Linked DNA regions of Homo sapiens. The protein of the gene in region 1 interacts with the protein of each later gene in a pairwise test. Each region holds a gene or a part of one and is shown on either strand. Other genes may lie near its edges. The genes, in order: MNDA and PRMT7.

The links.
Region 2: the proteins of MNDA (region 1) and PRMT7 interact in a two-hybrid assay, tested with the Homo sapiens proteins (one large-scale study listed by BioGRID and IntAct).

Annotation. Positions count from the first base shown.
Region 1 is NC_000001.11:158,837,684-158,841,504, forward strand, and holds part of MNDA (myeloid cell nuclear differentiation antigen), read left to right. Parts: intron 1-2,631; exon of another isoform or gene 2,632-2,713; intron 2,714-3,821. UniProt on the Homo sapiens protein: May act as a transcriptional activator/repressor in the myeloid lineage. Plays a role in the granulocyte/monocyte cell-specific response to interferon. Stimulates the DNA binding of the transcriptional repressor protein YY1.
Region 2 is NC_000016.10:68,338,277-68,342,097, forward strand, and holds part of PRMT7 (protein arginine N-methyltransferase 7), read left to right. Parts: intron 1-1,045; coding exon 1,046-1,287; intron 1,288-1,511; coding exon 1,512-1,692; intron 1,693-3,821. UniProt on the Homo sapiens protein: Arginine methyltransferase that can both catalyze the formation of omega-N monomethylarginine (MMA) and symmetrical dimethylarginine (sDMA), with a preference for the formation of MMA.

The DNA.
Region 1 (3,821 bases):
TTTTTGATTAGTAAGTTTAAACCATTTACATTTGAACTAATTATTGATAAGGAAGAACTTAGAACTTATTGTTGCCATTTTTTATTTGTTTTCTGTATGTCTTAATAGGTTTTTGTCTCTTAGTGACTTCTTTTTGTTGATTTTTTTCTGTAGTGAAACATTTTTATGTTCTTCTATTCCTTTGTGTACATCCTACAGATATCTCTGTGGTCATCATCAGGTTGCATATGATATTCTAAAGTTATAGCAATCTATTTTTAACTAATAACAACTTAACTTCAATCATATGCAAAATGTTTACTCCTTTACAGCTCCCCAACACATATTTTATGTTAATATTACAAATTGCATTTATATAATATGTACCAATTAACATTGATTTATAAATTGTTTTGCTTTCACATTTTAAATCCTATAAAATAATAAAAAATGATTACAAATCAAAATAGCAAAAGTCATGTTTCATGTTTATGTATATACTTACCTTTCATCAAGAACTTACATTTTTGTATGAGTTTGAGTTACCATCTAGCATCCTTGTGTTTCAGCTTGAAGAAATCTCTTTAGTATTTCTTTTAAGGTAGATATAGTGGTAATGAAATCCTTCAGCTTATGTTTATCTGGGAATGTCTTAATTTCTCTCATTTATGAATAGCAGGTTTCCCAGATATAGCATTTTTGATGGACAGACTTTTCTTTAAACACTTGAAATGTATTGTCCCACTACCTTCTGGTCTACAAAGTATTTGCTGAAAAATGTGCTCATAATCCTATTGAAGATTTCTTGGATATAATGAGTTGCCTTTTTCTTGCGCTTTTTAAATGATTTTCTTTTCGTCTTTGAGTGTTGGTAATTTGATAATAATGTGTCATAGTGTAAGTTTCTTTGAGTTTATCATAGTTGCAGCTTGTTTGGTTTCTTATATCTGTACATTTAGTCTTTTCTCAAATTTGGAAAGTTTTCAGTCCTTATTTACTCAATAATTTTGTTATTCCTTTCTCTTTTCCATCACCTTTTCAGACTTACATAATGCATATATTGTCCCACTTGATGAACTTTATAAGTTCTGTTCACTTTCCTTTATATCTTTTAAAAAAGTTTGTTCTTCAGCCTTGATAATTACACATGACCTGTCTAAAAGCTAACTGATTCTTCTGCCTATTGGTGTGGGCTGAGGAACCCCTCTAGTGGATTTTACAATGCAGTCAATGTGTTTTTCAGCTTCAGAATTTATGGAATTTTTTCTGGTAATTTCTATTTTTTGTCTATTCTCATTTTTTATTAATCATTTTCCTGATTTTATTTAGTTGTCTCTACCTATTTTCCTTTAACTCATTTATCATATTTAAGAGTGCTGTTTTAGTCTTTGACAAGAAAGTCTGAGGGCTGTGTTTCTTTAGAGAAAGTTTGTGGAGATTCATTTTTTTCTTTAAAATTGACCATGTTTACCTGTTTCTTTGTATACCTTTTGTTGAAAACTGGACATTTGTAAAAACAGCCCCCTCTCAACCATTGTTAACTGGCACCATATTCAGGGGAGGACTTTCACTCTTCAGCTAAGTATGAAATATAAACGTTCTCTGAGGCCTATATGGACGTGTGTCTTGCCTGGGCTTATGTGTGTGCATTTTTTGTAATTCTCTCATATACACACTGCTTTTAATCTGTAATTTCCCTAAGAGCCACACCTGCCTCTTTTCATGACCTTAGATGTTCTACTGTATTCCTCTATCCATAATCTCTTGCCTTCTGGCACCCAGGGAGTAGCAGATCCCATGAAGCTCTCACAAGCTGGAGCACCCACCACTACTTTTTGCAGCCTCAAATCTGACATTTAAACTATGCCACCATTTCCATCAATGCTCCAAGTCATGTGAAGCAGTTACTAGTCCCTCAAGGAACCTACAGAGAAGCTATAATGTTGCAAAGCAGTTCCACACTTTTCCTTCTATTCCAAAGGAAGAATGAGGAATTAGGAAGTTTCCTCCTGATCACGTCACACCATTCAAGGGAGAAAGTTAAACAGGGACAAAGAAAAACACCTAGAAGTTTTCCACTATTTTGAATGTGGCTTAATCTTGGTTTGGAATTTCCTTTGTTGCAACCAATTCTTAACAGCTGAAAACATTAGTTTGGTTCATAAATTGTTCTTTATTTGGTGTTTCCATGGTATAATGAAAGTCTGGAACGTCCTTGTCTGCAATCTTGCTAATGTCACTCTCAGTGAGAAGAGAACAATTTTTTAAACCATAACATTCAAATAACATTTTGACCAGATACAAAATTTTAGTTTGAAAAATATTTTTGCTTGAAAACTGATTCACAGCACTTCACCTGAAACCCCTGGGACAACTCTGATTTTTAATTCATTTTTTTAGGGGGGGATTTTAGAAAGACTACTTAATGCATACATTGTATGTAGGCACTGCAAGTGTCCCAGTAGAGGTAATATCAACATCCTAATATCAAATGCATTAAGAGTTCTTCAACAAATCATGCCACTATTCACATTAAAGTGAGATGAATAAGGAAGATTAAAAATAGCCACTGTATTAGTTCCTTCTCACGCTGCTATGAAGAAATACCTGAGACTGGGTAATTTATAAAGAAAAGAGATTTGATTTACTCACAGTTCCGCACGGCTGGGGAGTCCTAAGGAAACTTACAATCATGATGGAAGGCACCTCTTCACAGGGTGGCAGGAGAGAGAATGAGTGCTAGCAGGGGAAATGCCTGATGTTTATAAAACCATAGATCTCATGAGAACTTGCTCACTATCACAAGATGATATTTCAAGATGAGATTTGGGTTGGGACATAGCCAAACCATATCAGCCACGTATTACTTCACATTATATCTCTAATTTGCAAGATGATTTTGCTACCACACTTCCCTGCTAACTCTCATCCCTTCCCAAGCCCCCAAACCGCACAAATCTTTTCATCCTTCAGTATCTTCTTAGGTTTTAAAATTGCAGACATATAATTATGGATCAGTACTATGTAAAAATTACTTTCTTAACCTGCTGCAGACTGTTCAATCAGATTATTTAATCTTTGTAGGTGTTCTACTCAGTATTTCTGGAAGATTTTATCATTTTGCTTTTAATATTCTTTGGCTTTACTATATGTGCCCATGTGTGAAATTTCTCTTTATCTGATAGGTTTAAACACAGGAACACTCATGTTCTCCCAAAAGAGAACAATTTACAGCCCTAAGAATTTGGACACTCTAATTATATAAAAGTTGCACAAACACATGGTCACCAACCTAAAGGAATACCTATAAATTTAAACAGAAAATTGGAATATACGTTAGGAACTGAATGCCCTTAGGTAGTACACAAGGGGTTAAAGAGGCACACATAAGTGAGAGTGGGACCACAACAGCTCGCAGAAGATAAAGCCTCAATTAAGCATTAAAAACTCTAAGGAAGTATTCAGAGGAAGAAAACTGGGAATGCTTTCCCAGATAGCAGGAAGGGAATTAGCAGTAAGAAGACCTGAAAAAGAAAGACATATTGTGTATTTCTAGAGCATAAGGTATAAGAAATTCAAAAGTAACAGACACACACAAAAAGAAAGATACAGTTTATGCAAGGCCTTTCAAGTCATGCTGAGTAGAAATCTATACTAATAAAAATCAAAACTCATTGAAGGATTTCAGGAAAAATAGAGTCATGTCTTTATCCATAAAGAAACCTACTTGGTTGTCTGACAGAAACCTTTTAGTAAAAGTAAGACTAGTTGGAGGTAAATAATTGACTGTAAAAAACAAATGTGCAAAAAATAAATGCTGCAATTCCACACTAGAGAGCAGA
Region 2 (3,821 bases), on another chromosome or scaffold:
TGGTGGTCCCTTAGGTGTAGAGATATCGATGCTAGGGTTTGGGCACCTGGATTGGATGGTGGTGCTTCCTGTTGACGGGGAGTGCAGGAAGAGGGGTAGCCTTGGGAAGGTTGGGAAGTGGTGAGGGCGATTCTTCTGGTTTACACAGAGTTTGAGCTCTCTAAAGGTCAGCCAAGCAAAGAGGCCCAGAGATGCATGGATTTACTCAGTGAAGAGGGCATGGTTGAGGTCACTGTGGAGAGTGTGGAGGGAGACAGTCCGGACCAGGGAGTCCCCTTGTGAGGTGGGGCGGAGGAAGCACAGCCTGGGGAAGGCAGCGGGAGTGAGTCCAGTTAGAGCAGCATTTGTCTACCAGAGCAAGGTTGGGAGATGCTTCGCAGGGAGGCCAGTTATTCTGCTAGCCTTTTACCATGCCCAGAGCAACCCCTACAGCAGAGAATCATTTGGCCCAAGAGGCCAGTGGTGTCCTGGTGGTGAAAGCCATGTGGGTAGCAGCTGTGAGTGTGCTCTTGCCGGGTCCCTATTGCCTGGTGCATGGAGGACGTGGAGTGGATGCAAGAGGTAGGAGGAGAGCCGGACAAGGAGCCGGAGCCGGAGCCACAGCCCTAGGGGCTGAGTGTGCAGCAGTGCCCAGCGGCGCTAGAGGGCTGGGCAGCTGAGGGGGCACCGTGGTCCACAGGGCTTTGCCACAAGGAGGCTCTTGTTTTGGTGCTGGGCAGGAGCGGCACTGAAGGGACACTGAGCCCAGAGCCAGGATCACCACCCAGCAGCAGGACGTGAAGCATTTAAGAGTGCCAGGTAGCCAGGAACTTAGCTGACAGAAGTCATTTTAGGCACAGTGTGTGTTCTTTTTGAAATGTAGTACCCTTTTTTTCCCTTTTCCAAGGGCATAGGGCTGAAAACAGTTCACTATTCTAATAGTATAAGGTGTTGGGCATTACTGAACCAACCTAATGTTAAGGAATAAACCTCTTTTGATCAATGGGAATTACTGTGGGTCTAAGCATCTGATTTTTGTTTGGTTTTGTTTTTAATATAAACTTAGGAAAATTGTGAGGCCGTGCCCCACAGAGCCACCGTCTATGCACAGCTGGTGGAGTCCGGGAGGATGTGGTCGTGGAACAAGCTATTTCCCATCCACGTGCAGACCAGCCTCGGAGAGCAGGTCATCGTCCCTCCCGTTGACGTGGAGAGCTGCCCTGGCGCACCCTCTGTCTGTGACATTCAGCTGAACCAGGTGTCACCAGCCGACTTTACAGTCCTCAGCGATGTGCTGCCCATGTTCAGGTACCAAGGAGCCACCATAGGTGATGGCGCTTTGAGACATTTGATGGAAGTTGGGTATTAGGAGGTTCTTTTTGAGTGGGAAGGAAATCTAGCTGCTGTCACCTGCCTCGAAGGCAAGAGTCCTTTGCAGCCAAATGTCATTGCCAGTGAAGTCACTGTAAAAGCTTAAAAAATGGAGTGTGTGAGGTTAAACTCTGCTTACATTCTTGAATATTATTCCTCAGCATAGACTTCAGCAAGCAAGTCAGTAGCTCAGCAGCCTGCCATAGCAGGCGGTTTGAACCTCTGACATCTGGCCGAGCTCAGGTGGTTCTCTCGTGGTGGGACATTGAAATGGACCCTGAGGGGAAGATCAAGTGCACCATGGCCCCCTTCTGGGCACACTCAGACCCAGAGGAGATGCAGGTAAGAGGCAGGAGCCTAGCATGTGCCCTGTCAGGAAACTTGTCCACTGCTGTTCATGGGAAAGTAACAGTTGAGCCTTGGACCCAGGAGAATTTAGAGACAGGAGGGCTGTGTCAGAATCAAAGACAAAAGTTTTTAAAAAGCAAGCAAAGGCTAGCTGTAGTAACGTAGCCTTCCCAGGGTGAGCTCATGGTGAGCACTCATGGACACAGTGAGGAACAGAGAAGTTGGCTTTCCTCTCCCGCCTCATCATGATGCAGCCACCCTTAGATACCACCCCTCATCCCCTGAGTAATCCCAGGGGGCTCCCATCAGCTTGGAATAGAGAACTACAGCCTCACCTTCTGTGGCCTCAAAATCTCCTTTCTCCACCCCGATAGAAAGTAGGCAGAGGACATGAAACACAGAAAAGGAAATACAGATGATGGGGATAGTTGCCCACTGTCCCTCATAATAAGAGAAATGCAGTTTTAGCTGCTCACAGCACCTATGCTCCCAGCCTCTCAGGAGACTGAGGCAGGAGGGTTGCTTGAACCCAGGAAGTTGAGGCTGCAGTGAGTCGGGACTGCATTACTGCACTCCCGCCTGGGCAATAAGATGAGAACCTGTCTCTAAAAAAAAAAAAAAAGAGAAATGCAACTTTAAACTGCAATGAGATCTCATTTTCACCTACTAGTGAATAAAGTTTAAACAGTTTGCAAGCACACTGTTGGGGAAGCTCAGGGAAAAAGCAGGAAAGCGAGTCATCAGAACGTTTCAGGTAGAAAGCAATGCTGCTTTCAGACATGGGGCTGTGGCTGGATTTGCGTCTGTGCAGAATAGATGTGTGCAGCCCTGGTTTAGTAGAAAAAGGCCAACCTAAAGGCCACTAGCAGGGATCAAGTCCATTATCCTTTCAGTGGGTGAGGTAGCTCTCTGTGCACTGATGTGGGACAAGCTTCAGGGTGGATTATTACCTGACACAAAAATAAAGGTGCAGAATGGTGTGTTGTGTGGCAGCACTGGTGTTAGTAAAAATAGGAATATATGTGTTTGTGAGTGGATAGTCATGTGTGGTGTACATATAAGGAGGTCTTTGGAAGAATTCCCAGAAATTCGTAAAACTGACTGCATCTGGGAATGGGGACTGGAGGTTAGGGGTGGAAAGGAAACATATTTTTTACTATGCGTCCTTGTATACCTTTTGAATTTTCTCTCATGTGCTTGTGTTATTTACACCCCCATCCACCCTCTCTCACTCTCACACTCAAAGGAAAAGAAAGTGGGAAAGGTGTGTCGGAATTGCCTGATGGGTTCTTCCCACCCACTGTTCAGACAAAACCAATTCGCTGACACCATGGCATTGCAATAAAGACTTTAATTGACACGAAGCCAGCCACACCACGTGGGGGAGAGATTTGTTACTCAAATCAGTCTCCCTGAAAATTCACAGGCTACGGTTTTTTGTTTGTTTGTTTTGAGATGGAGTTTCGTTCTTGTTGGTCAGGCTGGAGTGCAATGGCGCGATCTCAGCTCACTGCAACCTCTACCTCCCGGGTTCAAGCAATTCTCCTGCCTCAGCCCCCTGAGTAGCTGGGATTACGGGCATGCGCCACCATGCCTGGCTAATTTTGTATTTTTAGTAGAGATGGGGTTTCTCCACGTTGGCCAGGCTGGTCTCAAATTCCCGACCTCAGGTGACCTGCCCCACCGGCCTCCCAAAGTGCTGGGATTACAGGCGTGAGCCGCTATGCCCGGCTCAGGCTAGGGTTTTTCAAGGATAGTTTGGCAGGCGAGGGAGTCCACTTCTGGGTGGAGTCATCAGACAGAAACGTAAAAACCCGAAAAGACATTTCAAAGGGTCAATCTTAGTTTCTGCAAGGTGGTGTTATCTGCAGGAGGAATCAGGGAAGGTTGCAGATCTTGTGACCTAACAATGGCTTCACCTTAGCAGAATTCAGCCTCCTCTCATCCTCCTAACCTGATGATCTTTCATTCAGTTTAAGTTTAATTTTGGGGAAGGACGGTTATCATTTAAAGTATTAACCAGCTGGGTGTGGTGGCTCACGCCTGTAATCCCAACACTTTGGGAGCCCCAGGTGGGTGGATCATTTGAGGTCAGGAGTTCGAGACCAGCCTGGCCAACATGG